7 separate regions of the Homo sapiens genome follow, and regions 2, 3, 4, 5, 6 and 7 are each linked to region 1. The links come from fine-mapping of genetic effects on gene expression. A gene starts in region 1. Each other region holds a variant in brackets. All regions are shown on one strand. Distances are from middle to middle.

Region 1 (4,069 bases):
AAAAAAAAAAAAGCAGGATTTTTTTTCTTCTTTCTCTTTCTTTTTTTTTTTTTTTTTACAGTGAGCATCCTGTAAACAGCTCTATTACCAATAAATACGGTAATTGGTTTTGTCAGTAATGGGCCAGGTATGTTCACCAACTCTAAAACATCTTCGTTTGTGAAATGAATTTCTGAGTAGATATCAAAACATGCTGCCATCTTTATCACACTAGCCCAATACTAAGAAATACTCATAAGTAAAACATTTTCCCAGAATTTCAGTATTTTAAATTGGCACGTTTTTGTTACTCTTCTCGCTGCTAACTTGAAGATAAGGCTCACTAAGATATACTTTTTAATGGATATGCATCAGCTCTGCAAGACAAAATATTTTACAATCTTAAAAGTTCAATTGGTGCAAATCTCATCGTGACTGATCTTTATTGCGAGGGGACTTTGCACCTTTTGTGATTTTTCACAGGCATATCGCAGTTATTCAATGGCCTTCATAGAAGCCAAGGGTTTTACAGGGAAGAAACGGCCCCGGGACACTTCAAACTAATTAGCCTACTTCTCAGAATCTGAGACCTAATGAAAATGATCAGGGTGGCATCCTTGAGTCCTGAGACAAACTGTATTATTAAGAGGGTTCCTGCCACTGTTCCTGGCTCCTTCCATTAAGCTCGGAAAACAGCTACTGGCTAAAAGACACAAGTTATTTTCTAAACACTGACCTGCTTTGTCCTGAGAGTCATCAAACTCCACGTTGAAAGCATGACCATTGTTGAGGATCCTCAGGGAAGTTGCTTGATCATAGGAAACAGACAGGGGCTTCAGGGAAGGGTCATACTTGGCTGTATGAGTGTCGATGTCAACAGGGGACTGGCGCTCTCCCTTGGCAATGGGGAAGTCCTTATGCCAGTGCTCAGGTCCTGGGGGAAAGAAGACATGTGAATCCCCCATTGTGGGGAAAGGTACACCCAGACCCCTAGAGAAGAGCAATCATTCCGGAGCCAATCTGCTCAGTTCCAATTTTAGAAGCATCACTTAACAATGGGCTAAATTTTGGGAAAACACGTAATCTGTGCCTCAGTTTCCACATTTGTAATATGGGATAATTAGAAATCTACCTCATAGATGTCGCTGTAAGAATTAGAATCGATATATGTAAAGCTCTTAGATCACTGAGTGCTATATAAATATTAGCTATTTTAAGGTCGTTTTACTGAAATTCAGCAACTGAAATCGGGCAGACACTAATGTCAGGGCTTGTGGTTGCGATTTTGGGATATGCAAGCTCACTTAAGACATTCAAGGAGGTCTGGATCCTTTCCTCACTGCCCAGGCCCGGGCCCACCCCACCTTTAACCGTCAGGGTTCCCCACTACCTGGGAAGCCCCACACCCTCCAAAGATGCGCTAGGTGCGCCAGACGCATGCTCCTCTGCTCCGCTGGCTCCGAAGAACCAGATCTGAGGCCAAGATAAAACCCGATTCCTGATGTCCGACCCCCTAACATTAGAAGTCGAGAGATGAAGGGAAAACTCGGAAATCAGAGCCATGGATTCAAACCAGCACTGGAAAATGCCCCGGGACAGTTCGTGCTGAGCGCCTTAGCCACAGGTGGTGCTGAAGCTGGAGGGGTGGGGTGGGGGTGGAAGGTGGGGGAGGGGGGAGGGGAGTCTCTTAATTTCTCTGCGATCAACAACTAGAATTTTCCGTTACAACCCTTTCCCGCCTCCTCCTAGGTCCGGTTAAAATGATCCCCAGGTCGGGACCCGGGAGGGACTGTCCTCGGGTCCCGCGGCCAGGGCTGCGCCTCCCCTCCCTCGGGCCCTACGCGCCTCCGGCGGACGCGGGGATTCCTCCACAGTGGCCTCGCAGCTGGGGCAAGGGGGACATCCCCGGCGCCGCGGAGCCGCGAGCGGAGCGAGCGCCCGGGGCGCACCTGAGCCTCCAGCACTCCCCGCGGCCGCGGTAAACAGCATGTGCGGGCGCTGCGGGCCCCGGGCCGGCATCCGGGCTCGGGGATCGGGGATCGGGGATCGGGGATCGGGGCGCCCCCGCGCTGGCCGTCGCCGGCACTCACCGTTGTGTTTGCCGTACCCCCAGTGATGGGACATGGTCGCGCTGGCGGTCGGGGCAGGGCAGGAATCGGCACCGATCTGGCGGCGGCGGCTTGGGCGCCTGCACTGTGTGTCCGCGGGTCGCGCCGGCACCAGCTTTTATAGGCTCCCGCCAACTTCGTGCTCGGGGGCGGCCCGGGGGAGGGGGCTCGGGTGGACCTAGGCGACAAGGGGAGGTGGTGACGGGCGGAGGTGAACTCCCCGCGCTCGGGGCGGGGCGGGCCGGGCGGGCGAGTCTCCGGGGGCGGGGAAAACGCCCTCTCGGCTGGCGCCCGGCGGGGCTCCGGGGCTCCGGGGCTCCGGGGCTCCTCTCCCGCCGCCCGGCTCCCCTCGGCCCACGGCAGGGCCCCGGTGTCCTGGGCTGGCAGCGAAGCTCGGAGCTCTGGGCGTGCGGCGGCTGCGGTGGCTCCTGGGCTCCTCCGTCCAACCCGGGCCGCGGAGCCTCTACGCGCACCCCATCCCCCTCCCGGCTGCGGAGTCTGGCGGCGGCGGGGACTGCTCGGGACCCGGACCCCCGGCGCCTTTCGTCCCCTGTCCCCATTGTGACCTGTCTCTTGGCCCCGGAGCCCTCCCGCCCCACCCGCGCCGGGGTCTCCAGCGCGAAGGGCTCAGTCTCTGGTGTCCCCGGCCTGGGGCTGGCAAGCTGGGTTAGGAGCTATGACCTTGGGGCAAATAGGGATACGATCCTAGAGGCGCAGGGGAGCGCGCAGCATGAGTGCTGAGAGGCACGCGCCCTCTGCTGCACGGCCGTGGAATAAAACGAGACAACGGCCCCACAGTCCCCTGCCCGCAGCCCACGCTCGGGCGAGCCTGGAGGATTGCATTTCCTCGTAGGCTGGCAGAGCCTTACATGAAGCGCTCATCTTCTCCTACTTTCCTCCTCTTTAAAAAATTAACGTGGGTGAGGAGACGTCCTAGTTGAGTACATATTGATTTGAAATAACCAAAACTTTTAACAAATCACTTTTCTCAGAAGAATCCAGTAAGAGAAAGATAATTTCTTCCAAAGACATGAGACGTTCCCTGGCTGGCCAAGAAAAATTGGCATCTGGCATACCTAGGAATCATTCAAAATAGTTTAATAGGAAGGACATTTTGAGGCCAGCCAGCATTATGACATTTGTGGGTCCTACGGCATTTCACCTTGGTGGGTCCCTTTTTCATAAACACGCATTTATACCAACACTGACATAAAGATAAATATCTTAATATTATATATTTAAACATTTTCTTTAACCAACACCTAATTTTTTTCTTTTTTGTTCTTATTTTAAAAGGAAACATTTTCCTGGGCATCTAAAAGTATTGTGGACCTGAGACACTGTGCTTACAGGGCCTACTGGGTAAGTGAGGCTGTTTTGAGATATAGAGAGAATTCATTTCCTACAAGGGATTTTGCCACAGAAAAATCCGGGGGTTTGTGGGAAGGAGTTCGGTTCTGTGGTCTCTGCAATCTCTGAGGGCAATAGTATTAGAGTTACAGTTGGGGAAGCAGGACACAGTTTAATGTGATTGTGTCGGCCTTGACATCACATTACTTACCTTTGAAAATATACAGATAAATACAAGGATAAGTTATTAGTGGACATTTTTGCAATATGTATCTCAAAATCACTCTTTACTATTTATTTCAGTCAATTTCATCCAAACAAATATGATTCATGTTTAGACTTACTTGTTCTAAGATTCTAGAAAATTGTGTACTTCTGCTTATGTGGGTTTTGGGTTGATGTCACAGGGAATTCTTAGGCAAGAAAGCAGCAATAAAGTTTTTAAATTTTTAGGACCATTACAAAATGGAGTTTGTAGCAAAGAAGAAGCTTTTATTTGTGCCTCTGTAGGTGCATTGTATCTGTTGGGGCCCATTGATGTAATTTTGTTTCTTTACATAATTTTCAAATATTAACTTAGTTGCTATGAGACTCTTCACTTGGCCCTGGAGATATGGCGTTGATAGGTGCCA
Region 2 (4,069 bases), 360 kb before region 1:
CACTTCTTTCAGCAGTAGATCAATGGAGTCCATATTAATACCTTACTAGCATTTAGAACTCGTGGGCCTATAACCTAAAAGACTAAAAATTGGTCAAAATTGAAATCTAGAAGATGAAGAATAGTGTGAAAAATGGAACACACATGTTTTGACCAGAAGCATTAGCATGAATGAGTAATCTCTGAGAGATGAGTAAGAACAAAAATATTTTTTAAAGTAGTATGTAAGAAATTAACCATAGAATTTGTTTCAACAGGGGTATAGAGAAAATTTAATAGATTTTTAAAAGCTTTAAACCAATCTGTGTGTTACAGAAGCAATAAATGGGGAAGCAAAGAACAATGGTCTGATACCAAAAGAACCCCACAGGCCAGTCTAGAAGTTCTTCAGCAGGAGATCATTGTCTTGGATGCATGGGTGGAGCCATGCTGCAGATCCTTTGTCTCTGTTGCGCAGATTGCATAATTGGTCCACTTAACTCTCCCTGACTTTGCCGGGTCCTCACGCTTCTGTCACCACCTATGCAGGCTGCTTTGTATTTCTTCATCATTGTTATGTTCAACATGAGGCCACCGTTCAAAAACATTATAAATAGGATTTGATAACAAACTTTCTAACTGCAATGAAAATAACGTCCAGGGTTTCAAGCACACACATCCTCTATATTAAAATGAGGTCTGAGTTGAGAAAAGCTGTATTTTGTGAGGGTCTGAGTTGAGAAAAGCACTCACAGGTGCTGGCTGAATGCTTGAGGATTTATAGAAGTAGAAAATTCTGCAGACCTTTGTGTGCTGTGCCAGCGGGGGTCAGGAAAGTTCTGAGAAATGACCTAATTAAATCAGTACATAATAGGAGAATAAAAATGCCTCACAGGCCTAAAGACACAATGAGTCTTTGACCAGATGCAGACTTTCACTGCATTTAAAGAAAGTACAGCTAAAGAAAGAAGTGGTCAGCAGGAAAAACAGCAAATGACAGCCAGACCCTCACTGTGTACCCACAGCTGGTTACATGAGAGAAAATATATCTGGGAGGTGAGAGTATTCTCAGTGAGAAGATGAAATTTCACAGGTGGCAGAGTTATTTCAAGATTTTCTAGACTTTGGAGAAACTATTTCCCCAAACTAATATCCCTTTCCTGAATTTTTATGAGGAAGGTATTATGGATAAATAACTGGAACATTGCAAGTTCTTTTTTGTTTGTTTGTTTGGGTTTTTTGTTTTTTGTTTTTTTGTTTGTTTGTTTTGTTTGTTTTTTTTGAGACAGAGTCTCGCTCTGTCGCCCAGGCGGTAGTGCAGTGGCGAGATCTCGGCTCACTGCAACCTCCAACTCCTGGGTTCAATTCTCCTACCTCAGCTTCCCGAGTAGCTGGGATTACCAGCACCCGCCATCATGCTCAGATAATGTTTGCATTTTTAGTTTACATTTTAGACAGGACCATGATCTCTCCTGTTTAAAATTTCCACTGAAAGCTCTCCTCCTAACTGCAGCTGATCTGGCCACAGTGGTTTCCATAGCAGTTGGTTTTCACAGCCACTGCAGAATTCACCTTCTACATCTTCTCATCTCTTCTTAAAACAAACTCTACATTGGTAAACGGCTGATTTCTGTGGGGGTATTGTCCTTACAAGCTTTTCATAAAACATCAATAATTTCTACATTATTCCACTCAAGCTTCACCATAAATTTAATGTTTGTTCTTGCTGCAACTTTAGCGGAATTCATGTTGCTCTGATAGGAGATGTTTTCAGTGGATGTCTCATCCTTCTTTATGCCTCAAACTACGTCTAGTTCAGAAAGGTTGTAAAAAGTTACTACAAGTTTATTTTAGTGCAAACAAACTGAAATCCATGAATAGTTTTTTAACCATGTGCATTTTCTATGAATTTTTTGAAGACCCCCAGTATTCAACATTGCCCATGTCCTGGGACAGAAGTGGATGTGGTCCACTTCCTGTCCTCCAATTGCCCACAGTGGAAGAGTGCACAGAGCAGGGAAACGCAACCCCAGAGAGATCCTGCCCGCCAGCATGCAGCGGACTGCTGCACCAGTCCTGGGTCCGTGGGATGTTGTCTGGGCCCGAACAAGTTGAACAACCTC[C/T]ATGAACCTCATTTTACTCCTAAGTAGCCCAGTTCCAGTAGCCATTATAGGACTGCTGTGCAGGCACAGTAAATTAACTCAGGAAAAGCAACCTAGCTCCAAGGTTAGCAACCAGGAGATCCAGTTGCTTCCATTAGCAGACCCTCTGAGGCATTCCGAAGCTGGAGTCTGGTGGAAGATGAGATTTAGTGTGATTAGAATAAAGTACCAACGTAATCAAGAAGAAGCCCCACCCACTCTGACCCATGCCTATATAAAGGCGATGCGCGACCACCGCGACACTGATTGAAGCCGCCAGTGGGGAGAGGAGCAGAGCCAGGCCGGTGCTCCCGAAGGCAGCAAGATGTTGCGAGCCACAGCTCCCTGCTGGTTCCCACCTGGATACCCAGAAGCTAAGAAGGTGGCCGAGGAGGCGGCCCTCGAGGCTCCAGAATTCCCACTGCCCTCTCATCAGCCTGCCCAGAGCTTCGGGCTCTGGGTGCCCCAGATGCACAAGCAGGCCTCAGCATTTGTGGACATCCAGGCGGAGCCCCAGAACAGGGGTCCGGCGGTGCCCCCAGCGTGGCCCAAGATGGTGACGGAGTCGTGCTACTTCCCTGCGCAGAGGGGATCGGCCTGCCGCTTGCCAGCCGCCCCAAGGCTGACAGAGAGGCCCTCGGGAGTCCGCATCTCAGCCCCCAGGAAGAGGAAGACGATCGCCCACTCTTCCAGCCCTTGCTTGGTCACAGGTTACACAGATGCCAAGAGAACCCGGGTGGCCAGCAGCAGCCAACGCTCCCGTGGCTCCAAGGTCGGCAGACAGCCAGGGAAGACGCGCAACAGGTCAGGGATGGCATGCAAGACCACCGCCACCACCAGCTCTAAGCGAATCGTCCGTCGTGCATCCTTACCGAGTTTGAGTTTGAAGAAACCCATTATCCTCCGAAGCTCTGGGTGCCAAGTCCCCACCGTCCTCCGCCGAGGCTATCTCCAACTGTTCACCGAAGAGTGTCTCAAGTTCTGCGCCTCCAAGCAGGAGGCCGAGGAGAAGGCGCTGAACGAGGAGAAGGTGGCCTACGACTGCAGCCCCAACAAGAACAGGTACCTGAACGTGGTCCTGAACACCCTCAAGAGACTGAAGGGCCTGACCCCCAGCTCCATGCCCGGCCTCAGCAGGGCCGCCCTGTACAGCCGCCTCCAGGAGTTCCTGCTCACCCAGGACCAGCTCAAGGAGAACGGCTACCCCTTCCCGCACCCCGAGCGGCCCGGAGGCGCCGTCCTCTTCACTGGCCAGGGGAAGGGGCCCGGCGACTCCTCCTGCAGGGTCTGCTGCCGTTGTGGCACCGAGTACCTGGTGTCCTCCTCGGGCCGCTGTGTACGCGACCAGTTGTGTTATTATCACTGGGGGCGGGTCCGCTCGAGCCAGGTGGCTGGAGGCCGGGTTAGCCAGTACACCTGCTGTGCAGCTGCTCCTGGCTCTGTGGGCTGCCAGGTGGCAAAGCAGCACGTGCGGGACGGCCGCAAGGAGAGCCTCGATGGCTTCGTGGAGACCTTCAAGAAAGAGTTGTCCAGAGACGCTTATCCAGGAATCTACGCCTTGGACTGTGAGATGTGCTACACCACGCATGGCCTAGAGCTGACCCGCGTCACCGTGGTGGACGCCGACATGCGAGTGGTGTACGACACCTTCGTCAAGCCCGACAACGAGATCGTGGACTACAACACCAGGTTTTCCGGAGTCACCGAGGCCGACGTCGCCAAGACGAGCATCACGTTGCCCCAAGTCCAAGCCATCCTGCTGAGCTTTTTCAGCGCCCAAACCATCCTCATCGGGCACAGCCTGGAGAGCGACCTGCTGGCCCTGAAGCTCATCCACAGCACCGTGGTGGACACGGCCGTGCTCTTCCCGCACTACCTGGGTTTCCCCTACAAGCGCTCCCTCAGGAATCTCGCGGCCGACTACCTGGCACAGATCATCCAGGACAGCCA
Region 3 (4,069 bases), 410 kb before region 1:
AAGAAGGCCATTACATAATGGTAAAGGAATCAATTCAACAAGAAGAGCTAACTATCCTAAATATATATGCACCCAATACAGGAGCACCCAGATTCATAAAGCAAGTCCTTAGAGACCTACAAAGAGACTGAGACTCTCACACAACAATAAAGGGAGACTTTAACACCTCACTATCAACATTAGACAGATCAATGAGACAGAAAGTTAAAAAGAATATCCAGGAATTGAACTCAGCTCTGCACCAAGTGGACATAATAGACATCTACATTACTCTCGACCCCAAATCAACAGAATATACATTCTTCTCAGCACCACATCACACTTTTCCAAAATTGACCACATAGTTGGAAGTAAAGCTCTCCTCAGCAAATGTAAAATAACAGAAATTATAACAAACTGTCTCGCATAATGCAATCAAACTAGAACTCAGGATTAAGAAACACACTCAAAACCGCTTAACTACATGGAAACTGAACAACCTGCTCCTGAATGACTACTGGGTAAATAATGAAATGAAGGCAGAAATAAAGATATTCTTTGAAACCAATGAGAACAAAGACACAACATACCAGAATCTCTGGGACACATTTAAGCAGTGTGTAGAGGGAAATTTATAGCACTAAATGCCCACAAGAGGAAGCAGGAAAGATCTAAAATGGACACCCTAACATCACAATTAAAAGAACTAGAGAAGCAAGAGCAAACACATTCAAAAGCTAACAGAAGGCAAGAAATAACTAAGACCAGAGCAGAACTGAAGGAGATAGAGACACAAAAAACCCTTCAAAAAATCAATGAATCCAGGAGCTGGTTTTTTGAAAAGATCAACAAAATTGATAGACCACTGGCAAGACTAATACAGAAGAAAAAAGAGAAGAGTCAAATAGACATAATAAAAAATGATAAAGGTTATATCACCACCAATCTCACAGAAATACAAACTACCATCAGGGAATACTATAAACACCTTTACGCAAATAAACTAGAAAATCTAGAAGAAATGGATAAATTCCTAGACACATACACCCTCCCAAGACTAAACCAGGAAGAAGTTGAATCCTTGAATAGACCAATAACAGGCTCTGAAATTGAGGCAATAATTAACAGCCTACCAATCAAAAAAAGTCCAGGACCAGATGGATAAACAGCCAAATTCTACCAGAGGTACAAGGAGGAGCTGGTGCCATTCCTTCTGAAACTATTCCAATCAATAGAAAAAGAGGGAATACTCCCTAACTCATTTTATGAGGCCAGCATCATCCTGATACCAAAGCCTAACAGAGACACAACAAAAATAGAGAACTTTAGACCAATATCCCTGATGAACATCCTCAATAAAATATTGGCAAACTGAATCCAGCAGCATATAAAAAAGCTTATCCACCAAGATCAAGTGGGCTTCATCCCTGGAATGCAAGGCTGGTTCAACATATGCAAATCAATAAACATAATCCAGCATATAAACAGAACCAAAGATGAAAACCACATGATTATCTCAATAGATACAGAAAAGGCATTTAAAAAAATTCAACAATCCTTCATGCTAAAAACTCTCAATAAATTAGGTATTGATGGGATGTATCTCAAAATAATAAGAGCTATTTATGACAAACGCACAGCCAATATCATACTGAATGGGCAAAAAGTGGAAGCATTCCATTTGCAAACTGGAACAAGACAGGGATGCCCTCTCTCACCACTCCTATTCAACACAGTGTTGGAACTTCTGGCCAGGGCAATCAGGTGGGAGAAAGAAATAAAGGGTATTCAATTAGGAAAAGAGGAAGTCAAATTGTCCCTGTTTGCAGATGACATCATTGTATATTTAGAAAACCCCATCGTCTCAGCCCAGAATCTCCTTAAGCTGATGAGCAACTTCAGCAAAGTCTCAG[G/T]ATACAAAATCAATGTGCAAAAATCACAAACATTCTTATACACCAATAACAGACAAACAGAGAGCCAAATCATGAGTGAGCTCCCATTCACAATTGCTTCAAAGAGAATAAAATACCTAGGAATCCAACTTACAAGGGATGTGAAGGACCTCTTCAAGGAGAACTACAAACCACTGCTCAACAAAATAAAAGAGGACACAACAAATGGAAGAACATCCCATGCTCATAGATAGGAAGAATCAATATCGTGAAAATGGCCATACTGCCCAAGGTAAATTATAGATTCAATGCCATCCCCATCAAGCTACCAATGACTTTCTTCACATAATTGGAAAAAACTACTTTAAAGTTCATGTGGAACGAAAAAAAAGCCCACATTGCCAAGACAATCCTAAACCAAAAGAACAAAGCTGGAGACATCACGCTACCTGACTTTAAACTATACTACAAGGCTACAGTAACCAAAACAGCATGGTACTGGTACCAAAACAGAGATATAGACTAATGGAACAGAACAGAGCCCTCAGAAATAATACCACACATCTTCAACCATGTGATCTTTGACAAACCTAACAAAAACAAGAAATGGGGAAAGGATTCCCTATTTAATAAATGGTGCTGGGAAAACTGGCTAGCCATATGTAGAAAGCTGAAACTGGATCCCTTCCTTACACCTTATACAAAAATTAATTCAAAATGGATTAAAGACTTAAATGTTAGACCTAAAACCATAAAAACCCTAGAAGAAAGCCTAGGCAATACCATTCAGGACATAGGCATGGGCAAGTGTTTCATGTCTAAAACACTGAAAGCAATGGCAACAAAAGCCAAAATTGACAAGTGGGATCTAATTAAACTAAAGAGCTTCTGCACAGCAAAAGAAACTACCATCGGAGTGAACAGGTAACCTATAGAATGGGAGAAAATTTTTGCAATCTACTCATCTGACAAAGGGCTAATATCCCGAATCTACAAAGAACTCAAACAAATTTACAAGAAAAAATCAAAAAACCCCATCAACAAGTAGGCGAAGAAGATGAAGAGACACTTCTCAAAAGAAGACATTTATGCAGTCAACACATACATGAAAAAATGCTCATCATCACTGGCCATCAGAGAAATGCAAATCAAAACCACAGTGAGATACCATCTCACACCAGTTAGAATGGGGATCATTAAAAAGTCAGGAAACAACAGGTGCTGGAGAGGATGTGGAGAAATAGGAACACTTTTACACTGTTGGTGGGACTGTAAACTAGTTCAACTATTGAACCATTGTGGAAGACAGTGTGGTGATTCCTCAAGGATCTGGAAGTAGAAATACCATTTGACCCAGCCATCCCATTACTGGGTATATACCCAAAGGATTATAAATCATGCTGGTAGAAGGACACATGCACACGTATGTTTATTGCAGCACTATTCACAATAGCAAAGACTTGGAATCAACCCAAATGTCCATCAATGATAGACTGGATTAAGAAAATGTGGCACATATACACCATGGAATACTATGCAGCTATAAAAAAGGATGATTTCATGTCCTTTGTAGCAACATGGATGAAGCTGTAACCATCATTCTCAGCAAACTATTGCAAGGACAGAAAACCAAACACTGCATGTTCTCACTCATAGGTGGGAATTGAACAATGAGAACACTTGGACACAGGAAGGGGAACATCACACCCCGGGACCTGTCAGGGGGTGGGAGGAGGGATGAGGGATAGCATTAGGAGATATACCTAATGTAAACGACGAGTTAATGGGTGCAGCACACCAACATGGCACATGTATACCTATGTAACAAACCTGCACATTGTACACATGTACCCTAGAACTTAAAGTATAATTTAAAAAAAAAATTTGTCCGATTTGTTTTGTAGCAATGGATAACTAGAACACTGGGGAAGTTACTTAAGCTTTCTGAGCCTCAGTTTTCACATGTTTAAAATGGGAATAATAAGAGTAACTAAAACCACATTGAGCTTTTATGAGTATTATACGAGATGAAAATATATCCATGTGGCACATCACAGTACTCAATAATGTTAGCAATTATCATTTGCAAAGATAGTTTAGACATCCTGACCAACCTAACTAGGTAATATTTGTAAGTTTCCATTTACCATGCATGATGATACTATTTTTTTTTCCTGAGACAGGATCTTGCACTGTCA
Region 4 (4,069 bases), 170 kb after region 1:
CTTTCCCACAAGAACTTGAGAATAAGTAAAATGAGCTTAAAATTTTATATTACATGTTTGCTCTCTCAGAGTTGGACTTTGCAATATATACCTTATGAATAAGAACCAAAATATAAACACACTCCTTAAAGGGCAGAGTGGCTTCAGATTTGAAAATCTTACTTGAGTGCATGTGTTAACATGTCCAATATAAGGAAGTGCCAACTAGGGAAATGGTGGATTTATCACAGAATAGAAAACTGAAAACCACAGAAGCACATATTGCTAGTTTATCCAAATATATTCCAGTGTTTAAGAAAACATTAGTCAACAGGCCAAGTATTTTAGTCCTTTTGGCAAAACTATACATATTTTGAAGAAAATGCTGGGAAGTACAGCCAACAAAATTCTATTATTATGTCCCACTTTGAAAATGATTCTTTAGACGAGTCGGATGTTTCAGACAATTTCTTTCTCCTATTTGTCGTATTTTTCTGAGATCCATACTCACCAAGTAAACATCTTATATAATTTGGTTTCCTGTATAGAGTGGACTTCCTAGTGGTGCTCAAGAAATATTCTTTGAATGAACGTTCATGTTTGATTAGTGTTCCAGCTAATGTAAGACTCATATCACTCATTATAAATTAATAACTTGACTTTTTAACTTATATTTCAGACTTGTGAACTCACTTATGGTAAGTCTGCCCATGAGAAAGGGACATCGTGCTGACAAATTATGTTTCTGATTTTGCAGAGCTGAGAGTTTGACTCTATACCTAGAGGACTTCATCAAACTCCTGAGACTCCCTAGGGAAATAGCCATCTGGTCTACTCCTGGCCACATATGCCTATTGCAGTGCTATAATCCAGCAAAAACAAACAAACAAACAAAAACAACCTAAAGTGTAACAAATCTGTCAAGATAGATTACTGCTCTTTTCCAAGAGAAGAGGGAAGAACTGCAAGGTAGGGCCTTGGAAATGTAAATGCCTACAGGTAGAAGAGAAGGCATGAGAAGAAGTGGGAGGCCAATACGTGTAAAAGTTGAGACTGGGAAAGAGCGTGGCAAAGAAACTTGAAGTTCATGGTCAGAATCATTCAGAAATACACAAGAAAATAGAAGGCACTAGGGACAGGTTTTCAAAACCGAATGCTTAGAACAGGAGGGGTGGCAGTTTGCTAGGAACAAAACTAGATAGGGAATTTTTGTGGATAGAACCCAGGGAACTGCTTGGCCAGGGCCTTAAGAGACTATACAGTAAATTGTTGAGACTTGAATTCAAGGAATTAACTCAAACACAATGAAAATTATATTGTCCCTTTAGCATCTAAACAGGAATTAACACAGATCCCTTGGCCTTGGACTTGATGGGAGGAAGTAAAGTGGCAAGGAAGAGATAACAGTAAAAGTGAGGAAAGGCCATAAAGGAAGAGGGAACCTAGAGTGCCTGGAATAGAGTGACGAGTGCTGTGTCTAATAGTGTGAGACAGTGTGAATACTATTACCTTTTGGTATCTAGGTAATATATTTGTGTAGGTGTATATGGTTTTATTACAGCATATGCCACTTTGCTCAGTAGAATTGATCACTACTTTAGAAGAAAGGAGTGCTGGGACGAACAAGTGGTAGGACACTGAATCATGGGGCTTGCTTTACAGGAGTGCTTTTTTTTTTTTTTTTTTTTTTGAGATGGAGTCTTGCTCTGTCGCCCAGGCTGGAATGCAGTGGCGCAATCTTGGCTCACTGCAACCTCTGGCTCCCAGGTTCAAGCGATTATCCTATCTCAGCCTCAAAAGTAGCTGGGATTACAGGCACGTACCACCACACCCAGCTAATTTTTGTTGTTGTTGTATTTTTAGTAGAGATGGGGTTTCACCATGTTAGCCAGACTGGTCTCGAACTCTTGACCTCAAGTGATCCACCTGCCTTGGCCTCTCAAAGTGCTGGGATTAAAGGCGTGAGCCACGGTGACTGGCCACAGGAGTAGTTCTTAATCCTTCTGGTCTCAGGACCCTTTTCACTCTTAAGAGTTACTGAAGATCTCAAAGAGCTTTTGTTTATGTGGATTATATCTGTTGATATTTACTGAATTGGAAATTTAAACAGAAGATTTAAAGTATTTCTTTATTAATTCATTTAAAGGTAATAAATGCATATAATGAATAATAAATTAGCATAAATAACAAATTTTGTGTAAATAATATTTTACCAGAAAAGGTATTAAAAAAAGAGATATTTACATTTTTTATAAATCCCTTAATGTCTGGCTAAATAGAAGACAGCTGGATTTTTACAGCTGTTTCTGCATTCAATCTGCTGTGATAGGCTGTTTTGTTTGAACTGCTTGAAGGAAATCCAGACACACAGATATGTAGCTTGAAAAATGGAGGAGGAAGTTAGTAGCTTTTTCAGATAATTGTGTATATTTGTCTTCAGTACTACACCAAAACCTAACAAGTAGTGGTTTTTT[T/G]TTTTTTTGAGAAGGAGTCTTGGCTCTTGTCACCCAGGCTGGAGTGCAATGACGCGATCACGGCTCACTGCAACCTCCGCCTCCCCGGTTCAAGCGATTCTCCTGCCTCAGCCTCCCAGGTAGCTGGGATTACAGCTGTCCGCCACTACACACAGCTAATTTTTGTATTTTTAGTAGAGACAGGGTTTCACCATGTTGGCCAGGCTGGTCTCAAACTCCTGACCTCATGTGATCCGTCTGCCTCGGCCTCCCAAAGTGCTGGGATTACAGGCATGAGCCACAATGCCCGGCCACAAGTGATGGTTTCTTAAAACCATATGAATAAACTTTATGAATAAACCACAGGAATAAACTTTTCATACTTGTTCCAGTAAAATCTATTGTTCTATATTGAATTTTGGATAGACAGATTTTTCTGTGCATGCCTGTGTAACATCATGCACTGGTCATTTAGAAAATATCAGTCCACCAAGTTGGGCATATCTTCAAAATGTTAACACAATTCATTATAAAATATCTCCCCCAGATCACATTTATTCAAATAACCAGTGGTCTAATTAGAAATGTCTCCATCCCTTGAAAAGCAGGCAAGCCGACAGAGGCAGATACAAACTTTCCAAAATCCAAATTTTCTCTTGAAAAATCTTATTTTACTATTGCCCACAAATACTTTAGCTTGTTTTTCTTGAAGTGACAAGCTCACTTTGTTCATTTCCAAGAAAATATTTGCCAATTACCCAAGCCTGAATATCCACAGTTTGTCAGTTTTTCTGTCAAATAAAAATGGTGCTCTACAAAAACAAAAAAAAAAAAAAAAAAAAGGCTAATTCAGTTTGCCATTCAGACACAATCACAGAAGTGCTTCCCTAAAGGTAATCGTCATACTTCAATATGCAGCAGAAGTTCTTCATTCGGGTTTTCCATTTCTTGACTCCAAATATTAAAAGAATGTAGACTCAGGGTTGGGATTTAATAAAATTAGTAATTTTTACTTAGGAACTAGAACATTCTTGAAAGACAATAACATTTTAAAACTGCGATTGGACAGTGGTGAAGACTACTAGTATTGTTTACTGCCACAGCCTTGATTTATGTAAGAAACCATCAACCCTTTTGTACCAGCAGTGCAAATGCCAAAACAGTTACTAAAAAAATGCAAATAACACTTGGTACTATTATAAAATAGTTTTGACCTCACTGACTCCGTGAAAGTGTCTCAAGGACCCCCAGGAGCTTGCCAATCCTACTTTGAGAACTGCTGGTCTACTGCACTGGCTGTGAAAGAAATTGTCCTAGTTGTCCAGATGATGGCAGCAGAAGATTTTACTCAGAGGAGAGATGCGCGAACCTTAGCCAGAACAAAAAAGGGCAACACTTGGTTAGAAATCCTGGGGAGGATGGGCGCTGTGCCTCACTTCTGTAATCCCAACAGGAGGCTGAGGCAGGTGGATCACCTGAGGTCAGGATTCAAGACCAGCCTTGCCAACATGGTGAAACCCCATCTCTACTGAAAGTACAAAAATTAGCCGGATGTGGTGATGTGTGCCTGTAGTCCCAGTTAATTGAACCTGGGGTGCAGAGGTTGCTGTGAGCTGAATTGTGGCATTGCACTCCAG
Region 5 (4,069 bases), 490 kb before region 1:
TTCTTTCTTTTCTTTCCTTCATTCTTTCTTTCTCTCTTCTTCTTCTTTCCTTCTTTCTTTCTCTTTTTTTTTTTTTTTTTTTTTTGAGATGGAGTCTTGCTCTGTCACCCAGGCTGGAGTGCAGTGGTGCGATCTCAGCTCACTGCAAGCTCTGCCTCCTGGGTTCATGCCAATCTCCTGCCTCAGCCTCCTGAGTAGCTGGGACTACAGGCGCCTGCCACCACGAGCTGCTAATTTTTTTGTATTTTTGGTAGAGACGGGGTTTCACCATGTTAGCCGGGATGATCTTGATCTCCTGACCTCGTGATCTGCCCGCCTCAGCCTCCCAAAGTGCTGGGATTACAGGCGTAAGCCACCGCACCCGGCCCTCTTTTTTTTTTTTTTTTTTTTTTTTAAGCAACTGAAGTTTGTTCAGGGAACAAATAAGTTGCCTTAAAGACTATTTAAGTATAAGCAGAAGAAACATTTGAATGTTTAAAGTCTTAGAAAAAGCTAAATTAAGGGCCTAATTCTATTGAAGACTTTCAAATACCAATATTATGTTCAACTTACCTCTTGTTAGATTCATTTAGGCGCAATGTTCTGGACACGCTGTCAAATTGTTAAGAATGATGGACAAGATCTGGAAGATAAGGCAGTGGGTTAAGGGATGCATTTCAGGGTGCTTGTGCAAAAGAAGATCTGGAAAGTTGGAGTCCTCAACTCCAAGGGTGATATCTGAGAGAGTACAATGAAGATTCCAAAGAAGGTGAATTGTAACTACACAGAGAGAAAGAAGGAAAAACTGAGAAATAGATATTGGGCTTAAACATCTATTCAATCTACAAATCAAAAATAAGGTAGATAAGCAAGCAGGTAGGGAAGAAAATGAGCAGGTGAACAGGAGAAAGCAGAGCTAGTTGATCAAGAAAATAAAAAAAGAATCAGATGAGAGTTAGAAGACAATGTTGGGGCCGGGTGCAGTGGCTCATGCCTGTAATTCCAGCACTTTGGGAGGCTGAGGTGGGTGGATCACAAGATCAGGAGATCGAGACCATCCTGGCTAACAAGGTGAAACCCTGTCTCTACTAAAAACACAAAAAATTAGCCAGGAGTGGTGGCAGTCGCCTGTAGTCCCAGCTACTCGGGAGACTGAGGCAGGAGAATCGTGAACCCGGGAGGCGGAGTTTGCAGTGAGCTGAGATTGAGTCACTGCACTCCAGCCTGGGTGACAGAGCTAGACTCTATCTTAAAAAAAAAAAAAAAAAAGAAAAGAAAAAAAGGAAGACAGTGTTGGTAGCAGAGTCAATGAGGTGAAGTTTTGCACAAACACAGTTGTGATATTACGTACTTCGTTGGATCAGTGGCATAATTCTTGCCTCTCACCCAGGTTCGATTATTAATAATATACTTTATCTTACCCACCACTGTCCCAAATATGACATAAAGTAGTGCAGATAATCAGCTATGCTTTCCTTATATATGATCGAAGTGGTACATTTTATAGATTGACAATTTAGTGAGGTATTCGGTTCTTAAATAATGAAATTAAGTGTGATTTTGAATTTGGATTAAATACTTCCTAAAGTAACTATGCTAGAGTAAACCAGACTTCAGTTTAATTTTAGGAAAATGCACTGGTGGTTTAAAATAAAGCACTTTCAAAGTATGCTGCCTGTTGTTTTCTTAAAAAGTTTTAGAAGAAAAAATCTGTAAACACCAAGGCATGACTATTTTTAAATGAAATAAATTTAAATGCATTTTCCTTGTTTCTTGAAATTTGCAATTTACAGTTTATGCAAAAATCATTTTCATTTGGCTGCTGACTTGGTAAATATTTGAAACACAAACACAAAATATGGATGCAAAAAGTTTTAATATAATCTGCTTGCTACAATCTTTAAATTCTCTACATCTTTTGACTTCTACAGCTTTGTG[A/C]CATATCAAAATTGACACAAGGCATTTATTTAGAAGACTTCACATTGAGAGACTTTAGCAAATCAAGATTCATTGGGCCTTTCATAAATTTATTTTTAAAAATCTGGATCTAATATAGAAATACGTAAAGAAAATGTAGTTTAGTATGCAAAATAAACATTTTGAAGACTCAGTTGTTCTATTCATGGACTTTTTTGGATAAAAATATTCATATCTGTGTTTCTGGCCTTGTTTATGTGGGACAAAGGGATCAAATATAAATCAAAAGTTGGTTTGCACTGTCTGTATGAAGCTGTTGGTTTACAAGTCAGAAATCTCAGCACCTGTAAACAACATCTCATACAATTTCTTGTTTTTTGTTTTTTTTTTTTTTTTAATTTGCATAGTTCTTGCTAGTTAAAAGCACTGTTCTGCATACGTTAGTCAATTCTGGTCTTCCAAGATGGAGGAAAGTCCCGTGGAAGGTGAAGTAGAAGTCAGGGAAAGCCTTCAAGCAGCAACGTAGGTCTGACCTGAGGAAGGAGAGGAGCGAATGGAGGATCGGGTAGGAAGAGCCTCTGAGTGCAGCACAGCTCCGAGGTCTTGGCCAGGCCAATGGTGGAGCCTTAGGAACAAATATTGGCCATTGGAAGAGTCCTGTGTTGTGCAGAAATGGCCCAACTCTAGTACTCCCACCGTGCTCAGGTACTGGCAGAAGCAACCTGGGGAGAGAGTCACCTCAGTGCGAATGCTCCAGTGGATCCTAAAAATGCGGCCGCTGGAAGTGTCAGCCAACTACACACTTGAAGGGGCACAGCTTCTTCTGAGGGGCACAGCTTCATGGCTGCTCAGTGGGAAAGCCACACAGGCTAGAGAGGGGAACAGATGAACTGCAATCTTTTCGTTTAAGTCATTTTGCCCACTCCCTTGTAATGATAATAATAATAGTTACTATGATTATTATTTCATGGCTCAACTTACAAAGAGCTATTATATAATTTATCTAATTTTATCATCCTCACCTCACAAATGAAGGGGCTCAGAGAGGTTAAGTGACTTTGCCCAAATTCATTTTTATCAGTGCCAGGACTTTCTTCACTAAACCACAGCTGTTACCATTTTCATGCAGATACAGTTTCAGATACTTTATCCTGATCTTTCTTCTTTTCTGATGAAATCTAACACATTGACAAAAAAGTAAATATAACTTGTATGCACATTCCAGTGAATAATTATTAAGCATATATCTGTATAACCACAAGTAGAACATTGCTAATATCCCAGAAGTCCTGAAATGCCTTTTCCCCATCACAGCCTCATTCTTTTCTTGAAAGGAAGCCACTGCCCTAACTTTTGTGACCACTTATTCTTACTCTTCTTTATGGTTATATGACATAAACATGCATCCTTAAATAATGTAATTTAATTTTGCTTATTTATAAAGTTTATTTGGAAAACTTATAATTTAGCAGTTTTTGTGTTTTTCTTCTTAGTATTTGTGAGATTAATTCACAAATAAATTGCACATATTGCGAATTTATTCATTTTCATTGAGGTGTACTATTCCATTTAATGAATGTACAACAATTTCCTTTTATATTCTACACTTGATAAATAGATGGGTTAGGGAATGGAAGGTGTTTTGTTTTGTTTTGTTTAACAAACAGGGCTGGAACAGAGATTTTCATATAGAAAAACAAACAACTGACACCTCACACTCTACACAAAAACTTACTTTAAATGACTTATAGACCTAAGTATAAAATTTAAATCTATAAAATCTATAGACAGAAACATAGGAAAAAATGTCTGTGCTCTTGGTTAGGCAAGAATTTCATAGACAGAAAATAAATGCATAAGAAGTTGATAAATTGGACTTCATTTAAAAAAAAATGATTTGTTCTCCAAAGACACCATTGAGAAAAATTAAAAGGCATGCCACGGAATGGATGGGCATTTTTACAACACATGAGTCTGACAACAGATTTGTATCTAGAATACATAAGTGTTTATTAAATATTAATAAAGATTAGTGTAGCTAAAATTAGAATAAGAATACATCAGAATATCTAAGAATATAATGCAACTAGAACTCCCATAATTTGCTTATGAGAATGCAACATAATAGAGTGACTTATTAAAACTGGAAGTTCCATAAAACATTAAACATTCC
Region 6 (4,069 bases), 180 kb before region 1:
TTTTAATGTAGTTGGTATGGAGCTCTGTGAGTGTGTGCTTCTTTTATTATGGATCACGTTCAGCTTCTTTTTATTTGCCTCCTAGTCATAATAGTAAAACTCTACTCCTCTACTCCGAGGAGTCCCTACCACCCATCTCATCACTTTCCAGCCCAGCACTCTTCATGCTCATTCATTTAAAGCATTCAACATTGTGTAAATGAATCTTGGAAGGCAAAAGCTACTGAATTTAGCGAATTTGTGGAGGCATTGCCACAAATCAGCCAGGTGAAGTTTCACACAATCGAAGACTGCACAACTCCTAGAAGGCAGCACTATGCTGCAAACCCAGACGGCCACTCTTCTCACCCCTCGTCCGTTTGCTGTTCTGGATAATGAGGTTCAAAAGTCACCTAGGCAACTGCCAAAATAGCTGAAATGGAGAAAGGGCTTCAGGCTGGTGACTAGCAGAGGTCCACCTGACCCCCGTAAGCTGCTGAACAAGTAGGGCTGCCAGAAATGTCCCACTAGGGAATTTGGTAGAGACGAAGACATGCTCACCGGACAAGGGTTCCTCCCAGGATACGCCCGAGCGGAAGAAGCGGGCTCTGAGCCACGCCCTTTCACCCTCCTCTACCCCGCCCTGGGCTGGTGAAGGTGCGCGCCAGGATGTGGACTACCGAGCCCTGAAGAAATAAGTCCTTCCACTTTGACCCCATGGAGGATTGCCTGTGAGGAACTTAAACGAGTCTACCAGTGTCTAGACACGGGGGCAGGTCTGTCCGGCACAGCAGCTCCCTCAAGGAGGAGAAGAGTGAGGAGAAAGGAAACTCAAGTCTCACCATTCTGTCCTGGGAGAGAAGAGGAGGATCTCATCTCTCATCTGTCCAAACAAGTCAAGGAGACTTTCTCTCATCTTTCCAAGCAAGGCAAGGAGACTTTTTATCATTAGGAAACAAAAAGAATTTAGAAGGAATGAAAGCAGCCCGTAAGGTGAATTCCTAAGGACTGCCCATTGAAACTGACAAAATTGCCCTTGTTTGATGAGAGGAATGAGCAGAGCATTGATGTGGTGAACAAGGATCTAGTGAGACTTTCCCAGCATGTTTCTACCAAAGCTTTATCTAAGCTTCTCAGAACACTCTCCTAATAAGCAGATGTTTGGCCTTTCAGAAAGTCAACAAGCAAAATGCCTTGAGTGTCCCAAAACACTGATGCCATGATGTGGGCTCCTGACTGGCCTCCTTTTCCTTTGACTGGACCGCTGCCACCTCTTGGTAGCCATCGCTTTCATGATGCTTTGCCTTGGAGATCATATTGGTGAAGCCATGTTCCAACTGCCGCTTACAATTTGTCAGAGGGATGCGTCAGGATCGTGATCCCTCCTGTTTAAAATTTCCACTGATAGCTCTCGTCGTAACTGCAGCTGATCTGGGCACAGTGGTTTTCACAGCCACTGCAGGATTCATCTTCCACATCTTCTCACCTCTTCTTGAAACAAGCTATACATTCGTAAAGAGTTCATTTCCTTGGGGTAGTGTCCTTATAAGCTTTTCTTAATACATCAATGATTTCTTCATTCTTCCACCCAAGCTTCACCATAAATTTGATGTTTCCTCTTGCTGCAATTTTCGTGGAATTCATATTGCTCTGACGGGAGTCCTTTTCAGTG[G/A]ATGTCTCATCCTTCTTAGTGCCTCAAACTAGATCTAGTTCAGAAAGTTTATAAGAAGTTAGGACAAGTTTATTTTAGTGCAAACCAGTGGAAATCCATGCATAGTTTCTTCACCATGTGCATTTTCTATGAACCTTTGGAAGACCCCCTGTGTTGAACATTGCCCAACTCCTGGGAGAGAAGTGGGTGCGGTCCACTTCCTGTCCTCAATTTGTCCGCAGCGGAGGAGTGCACAGAGCAAGGAAAGGCAACCCCAGAGAGATCCTGCCCTCCAGCATGCAGCAGACTGCTGGCCCAGTCCTGGCTCCATTGGGTGCTGTGTGGGCCCAAGCAAGTTGACCAACCTCCCTGAACCTTAATTTAATCCTAGGTAGCCCAATTCCAGTAGCCATTATAGGACTGCCCTGCAGGGACAGTTACTTAACTCAGGAAAAGCAACCTAGCTCCAAGTTTAGCAACCGGGAGCTCCAGTTGATTCCATTAGCGCACCCCCTGAGGCATTCCCAAGCTGGAGTCTGGTGGAAGATGAGGCTCAGGGTGATTGGACTGAAGCACCAACCTATCAAGGAGAAGTCCCACCCAGTCTGCCCTGTGCGTATATAAAGGCGACGCGTGGCGGCCGCAGCACTCATTGAAGCCGCCAGTTGGGAGAGGAGCAGAGCCAGGCCGGTGCTCCCGAAGGCAGCAAGATGTTGCGAGCCACAGCTCCCTGCTGGTTCCCACCTGGATACCCAGAAACTAAGAAGGTGGCCGAGGAGGCGGCCCTCGAGGCTCCAGAATTCCCACTGCCCTCTCATCAGCCTGCCCAGAGCTTCGGGCTCTGGGTGCCCCAGATGCACAAGCAGGCCTCAGCATTTGTGGACATCCAGGCAGAGCCCCAGAACAGGGGTCCGGCGGTGCCCCCAGCGTGGCCCAAGATGGTGACGGAGTCGTGCTACTTCCCTGCGCAGAGGGGATCGGCCTGCCGCTTGCCAGCCGCCCCAAGGCTGACAGAGAGGCCCTCGGGAGTCCGCATCTCAGCCCCCAGGAAGAGGAAGACGATCGCCCACTCTTCCAGCCCTTGCTTGGTCACAGGTTACACAGATGCCAAGAGAACCCGGGTGGCCAGCAGTAGCCAACGCTCCAGTGGCTCCAAGGTCGGCAGACAGCCAGGGAAGACGCGCAACAGGTCAGGGATGGCATGCAAGACCACCGCCACCATCAGCTCTAAGCGAATCGTCCGTCGTCCATCCTTACCGAGTTTGAAGAAACCCATTATCCTCCGAAGCTCTGGGTGCCAAGTCCCCACCGTCCTCCGCCGAGGCTATCTCCAACTGTTCACCGAAGAGTGTCTCAAGTTCTGCGCCTCCAAGCAGGAGGCCGAGGAGAAGGCGCTGAACGAGGAGAAGGTGGCCTACGACTGCAGCCCCAACAAGAACAGGTACCTGAACGTGGTCCTGAACACCCTCAAGAGACTGAAGGGCCTGACCCCCAGCTCCATGCCCGGCCTCAGCAGGGCCGCCCTGTACAGCCGCCTCCAGGAGTTCCTGCTCACCCAGGACCAGCTCAAGGAGAACGGCTACCCCTTCCCGCACCCCGAGCGGCCCGGAGGCGCCGTCCTCTTCACTGGCCAGGGGAAGGGGCCCGGCGACTCCTCCTGCAGGGTCTGCTGCCGTTGTGGCACCGAGTACCTGGTGTCCTCCTCGGGCCGCTGTGTACGCGACCAGTTGTGTTATTATCACTGGGGGCGGGTCCGCTCGAGCCAGGTGGCTGGAGGCCGGGTTAGCCAGTACACCTGCTGTGCAGCTGCTCCTGGCTCTGTGGGCTGCCAGGTGGCAAAGCAGCACGTGCGGGACGGCCGCAAGGAGAGCCTCGATGGCTTCGTGGAGACCTTCAAGAAAGAGTTGTCCAGAGACGCTTATCCAGGAATCTACGCCTTGGACTGTGAGATGTGCTACACCACGCATGGCCTAGAGCTGACCCGCGTCACCGTGGTGGACGCCGACATGCGAGTGGTGTACGACACCTTCGTCAAGCCCGACAACGAGATCGTGGACTACAACACCAGGTTTTCCGGAGTCACCGAGGCCGACGTCGCCAAGACGAGCATCACGTTGCCCCAAGTCCAAGCCATCCTGCTGAGCTTTTTCAGCGCCCAAACCATCCTCATCGGGCACAGCCTGGAGAGCGACCTGCTGGCCCTGAAGCTCATCCACAGCACCGTGGTGGACACGGCCGTGCTCTTCCCGCACTACCTGGGTTTCCCCTACAAGCGCTCCCTCAGGAATCTCGCGGCCGACTACCTGGCACAGATCATCCAGAACAGCCAGGACGGCCACAACTCCAGCGAGGACGCAAACGCCTGCCTGCAGCTGGTGATGTGGAAGGTCCGACAGCGCGCCCAGATCCAGCCACGCCACCGGTCCGCCTCTCCCGCCG
Region 7 (4,069 bases), 610 kb after region 1:
AAAAACAGTCTAGATATCCTTCCTTAATAGTAAATGGGATTATTTTAATGCTGCCAGATGTTTGCATCACTTTTAGAATAAGTTATGATAAGTTTCTTAATATTTAAAATATATTTTATAGAAATTATAAAATGCTTTGAGAAAATCATTCTTAAAGATTATATTTTTTTGTCAGAAAAGGATAACTAGTGAAATAAGTTGCTTAATTCAGTAGTTTGACCATTGCAGCAATGAAGTTACAGTTGTGGGTCTGATTCTCAAGTAGGAATCGCATAGCTCCATAGGCTGATATTGCCCTCCCCATTGTGCATATTCACATAGTTGGTTATTGAATCTAAATTGGATGCCTAGATTATGATCATAGTTCTGTCACTAATTAGCTTGGTGACCTTCGGAAAATGACTGTGTCTCTAAATCTAAGGAGATGAATTAATAATACAGAGTATCCACTATGTGTGAGGTTTACTGATAGTCCCCAAGGATACAAAGATAAGCAAAACTGAACATTGTTCAGGTGGGGGAAGGAAGACAGACATGAATCAAACACTGCAGAAAGAAATATAGCAATAGAAATTAGGAGAGGTGCTGTGAAGTAACAGTGCTGGGCGCTGAGCGAGAGGAACAGAGGAACCTAATTTAATCTGTGAGGGATGTTCGTGCTGAGATCTGAAAGATGAGGAGTCAAGTGAACCAGGTAGTGTAGGGAGGTATGAGGAGATGGAACAACACAGAGAAAGGACCTGAGGCAGGAAGAAACATGGAATTCTTGTGGAACTTACAAAAGGCCCTAGAGGCTGGAGCAGAGAGAATAAGACCCTTTCAAGGATCACAGTTACTTCCTCTTTAAAACATCTATTGAAAAATTTTTTCTAAGTTTGCATTTTTATACAGTACCTAAGGTTTTTTTTGTTGTTTGCATAATACTCATAATTAAAGGCTTAAAATATATTTACCTCATTTTTTAATCCCGTAATCTATCTATATATAGTTGATCCTCATCTCTGATATGCATAAATTTCAGTTACTGATATTAGTTAAATAACACCAGTTCTCCGACAACACAAATTTTAGTTACTACAACATATAAACGGTAAGTAATTTAATAAAGTCCAAACTTTGCTTCTAGCTTTTCCACAAATAAATGCATAAATAATAAATGTGCATGATAATAACAATGATCACTAATCACATTCCATCTTTCAAAGTCTGTCAATGATTTTTTTTGCTGTTCATTGATTATTCACTTCACTCACTTGTTTCAGATCATTAATTGTAATGCTTCCTTATCTCTCAGTGACAAAACGTGGCATTTTGCAAAATTGAATAATCAAAAGAAAGAATTGATCAAAGATGAAAATGCAGCAAAGAATCGAAGAGTGATAATACTAGATGTGAAACTCAAATTAAATGTAAATGAAATTACAGAAGAAATAGCTCATTATAGGGATATTGATACTCCTCTACTCAAGAGACTCTAGGTATGGAGTCAGAGGAACTTAGTAAAGGCAAACTTATCGACATAAGTGAGGAAAGTGGATGTGATGTGATGAAACGTATAACGCTATGGAGGGGAAGTGACCCTGGCAAGAGAATCACACATTGAAAGAACTCTCAGAGATAGTTCACAACATTGATAGAATGTCAAAGCTAATTCAACCTTAGAGAGGAGTATCCAACAAGGGATAAAACAGATGCCTACTCCGTATCCTGTCCTGAGTTAGGAAATGAGAAGGCATGCACTGTTTCAACTACTTTTGATAAGTGTTCTTTACAAAGAACTAAAACACCTTAATTCTTAATATTTTATTGTTTTAAATTATAGTATACTAAATAACAATTAGCTTTACTATAGTTTCCCATTAGTTTATAGAGAAGAGAATAAAAGTTGTTAATGTTTTGACAAACATGTTTAAGATCATGAGACAATCCTGT[T/C]TTTTCCTCATTGGATGGTCTCATCTTGCATCATCACCTTTGTGGCCTCCTACTGTCCTGCAAAGCAGGAACGATCTGTAAATTTTACAGACTCTACCCAATATAGCATTTTCAATGTTTTATTATGGACTTCAGAAGGTTGGAGTTATTTTTCTGAGTTTTCAAACTCTTGATCTTGAAGGATTCTAAATCAACAAATGACTTGGCAGATAATATTAGTTAATTAAATCTTTAGGATTTTATCTAAATATTAGACACCAAATCTTAGGTTTGAGCACCTCCAAAGTCCTAAAATTCCAAGATCCACTGTACTCAAGTAAGTATAATGAAAATATAAAAATCTGTATATTTTGTTGGGATTTAGTATTTTATTTTTAACTATAATAATATTGTTTTAAATACCATAATTAAGAGCACCCATGAATAAAATGTACAAAATGGTTAAAAGATAATTTAAGTCATAGGAAAACAAGGATGAAAAATTCACATACCGATTGTAGAAATCATCTCTGTAGTAATCATAGTCAAAGACATAACCGCTAAAGAGGGAAACAAAAAAATTAGTTGGCATTTGTTTCAATGACATTAATTTTATTATTAACTTATGATGTTATAGCATAAAATTTGTTACTTTTAAAATATTTATTTTTCAATATAATTATGCATCCAAAGGACCTTCCAAGATAATGTCCAATTTGATATAATGTCATGCCAAATTATTATTACATGTTTGACAATGTAGGGACTGATAATGGTGTGGTTTGGAATGAAAATCAGAACAGGTAGCAAAATAAATAAGTTAAAACTTTTCGGGCGCCTGTAGTCCCAGCTACACGGGAGGCTGAGGCAGGAGAATGGCATGAACCCGGGAGGCGGAGCTTGCAGTGAGCCAAGATCGCGCCACTGCACTCCAGCCTGGGCGACACAGAGCGAGACTCCGTCTCAAAAAAAAAAAAACAAAAACAAAAAACTTTTAATTAGGTATGAATGAAGACCATAGTTTTTCATCTCAGACAAGATAATCATATAGTTGTCCCTTCTCTCTGAGGTAATATAATTATCCCTTCTTCCTAAGGTATGTACAATGAGGCTACATAATGAACAAAAGGTATTGAAATAAGATAAATGGAAAGGTTTAATAACCCATTCATTATAGAAATGGTGAATAGAAATGTGGTTCCTTGGAAATTCAGGATTTTTTAATTCTAAAACTATGGATTCAATACTTTAAATAGAGAAAAATTAGAAAAATAACTGTGGCTGTCTTACCAACAATACCTTAATATTTTAGTATATTTAAATATGAATTAGTAAATGCATTTCAGAGATAACAGTATTACGACTAAGCTCCCTAAAAGAATATATTTTAAAAAGTCACCTCCATCCACTTGCCTTGTTGTTTGAATTTACGAAGCACTTTATATGCATTTCAATTACAGTCATCAAAACAACTCTGTTGGACAGCATAACCTGAAGAAATTAAGGTGCAACAGACCTAAGTGACTTGCTCAAATTTGCATTCCTACTAGGTGACAGAGCTGAGATTTAAGGGAAAGTTTTCTGATTTCACAAGTGGGGTCATTTTGACAACATCTCGCAACACTCCCCAACCTGGAAGAAGTCTTAATGTGATGATGAATGGAGTAACTGTACCACAGGGGAGTAATTTAAAAAAAAAAGTTTACTTACTCGTTTTCTTTTTATTGTGGCAAAACATACATAACTCCATATTTACTATTCTAATCTTTTTAAAGTTTATGATTCAATGGCGTTAAGTACATTCACAAAATTGTACAAACATTGCCACTACCCATTTCAATAACCTTATCATCAACCTAAACAGAAACTTTATACTCATTAAACAATAACTTCCCATTCCTGCCTCTCCAGCCTCTGTCATTAATACAAATACAAATCATACAATCATATAGTCATACAATATTTGTTCTTTTGTGTTTGGCTTATTTTACTTAGCATAATATTTTCAAAGTTTATCCATGTAGTATGTATCAGAATTTCATTCCTTTTTGAGGATGAACAATATTCCATTGGGATGAGATATATACATATATATATATATACACACACACACATATATATATACACACACATATATATATGCACACACACACACAAA

What was found. PIP is the estimated chance that this variant, and not a neighbour inherited with it, causes the effect.
Region 2: its variant is the best candidate, but not a certain one, in a credible set for the expression of CA2 in whole blood (INTERVAL, PIP 0.61).
Region 3: its variant is the best candidate, but not a certain one, in a credible set for the expression of CA2 in whole blood (TOPMed, PIP 0.89).
Region 4: its variant is the best candidate, but not a certain one, in a credible set for the expression of CA2 in whole blood (INTERVAL, PIP 0.74).
Region 5: its variant is the best candidate, but not a certain one, in a credible set for the expression of CA2 in whole blood (TOPMed, PIP 0.83).
Region 6: its variant is the best candidate, but not a certain one, in a credible set for the expression of CA2 in whole blood (INTERVAL, PIP 0.90).
Region 7: its variant is the best candidate, but not a certain one, in a credible set for the expression of CA2 in whole blood (TOPMed, PIP 0.88).

Annotation. Positions count from the first base shown.
Region 1 is chr8:85,462,116-85,466,184 of GRCh38, reverse strand. It overlaps CA2 (carbonic anhydrase 2), which reads right to left and starts at 2,178. Exons shown (of 7, transcript NM_000067.3): 1 at 2,070-2,178; 2 at 716-913. The coding sequence starts at 2,103. It overlaps CA3-AS1 (CA3 antisense RNA 1), which reads left to right and starts at 1,270. Exons shown (of 3, transcript NR_121630.1): 1 at 1,270-1,603; 2 at 3,384-3,449. RefSeq lists enhancers at 1,570-2,069, 3,970-4,069 and silencers at 1,713-2,182, 2,293-2,612, 2,683-2,942.
Region 2 is chr8:85,827,026-85,831,094 of GRCh38, reverse strand. It overlaps the pseudogene REXO1L6P. Among named protein-coding and RNA genes, the nearest start is that of LINC02849, 26 kb to the left of the region's middle. The variant C/T (reference allele first, on the strand shown) is at 2,102.
Region 3 is chr8:85,867,971-85,872,039 of GRCh38, reverse strand. No RefSeq gene overlaps it. Among named protein-coding and RNA genes, the nearest start is that of LINC02849, 15 kb to the right of the region's middle. The variant G/T (reference allele first, on the strand shown) is at 1,893.
Region 4 is chr8:85,290,001-85,294,069 of GRCh38, reverse strand. No RefSeq gene overlaps it. Among named protein-coding and RNA genes, the nearest start is that of CA13, 47 kb to the right of the region's middle. The variant T/G (reference allele first, on the strand shown) is at 2,454.
Region 5 is chr8:85,947,397-85,951,465 of GRCh38, reverse strand. No RefSeq gene overlaps it. Among named protein-coding and RNA genes, the nearest start is that of LINC02849, 94 kb to the right of the region's middle. The variant A/C (reference allele first, on the strand shown) is at 1,918.
Region 6 is chr8:85,642,742-85,646,810 of GRCh38, reverse strand. It overlaps the pseudogene REXO1L8P. Among named protein-coding and RNA genes, the nearest start is that of CA3-AS1, 180 kb to the right of the region's middle. The variant G/A (reference allele first, on the strand shown) is at 1,652.
Region 7 is chr8:84,848,382-84,852,450 of GRCh38, reverse strand. RALYL (RALY RNA binding protein like) reads right to left here. Exons shown (of 9, transcript NM_173848.7): 5 at 2,424-2,471. Among named protein-coding and RNA genes, the nearest start is that of LRRCC1, 260 kb to the left of the region's middle. The variant T/C (reference allele first, on the strand shown) is at 1,933.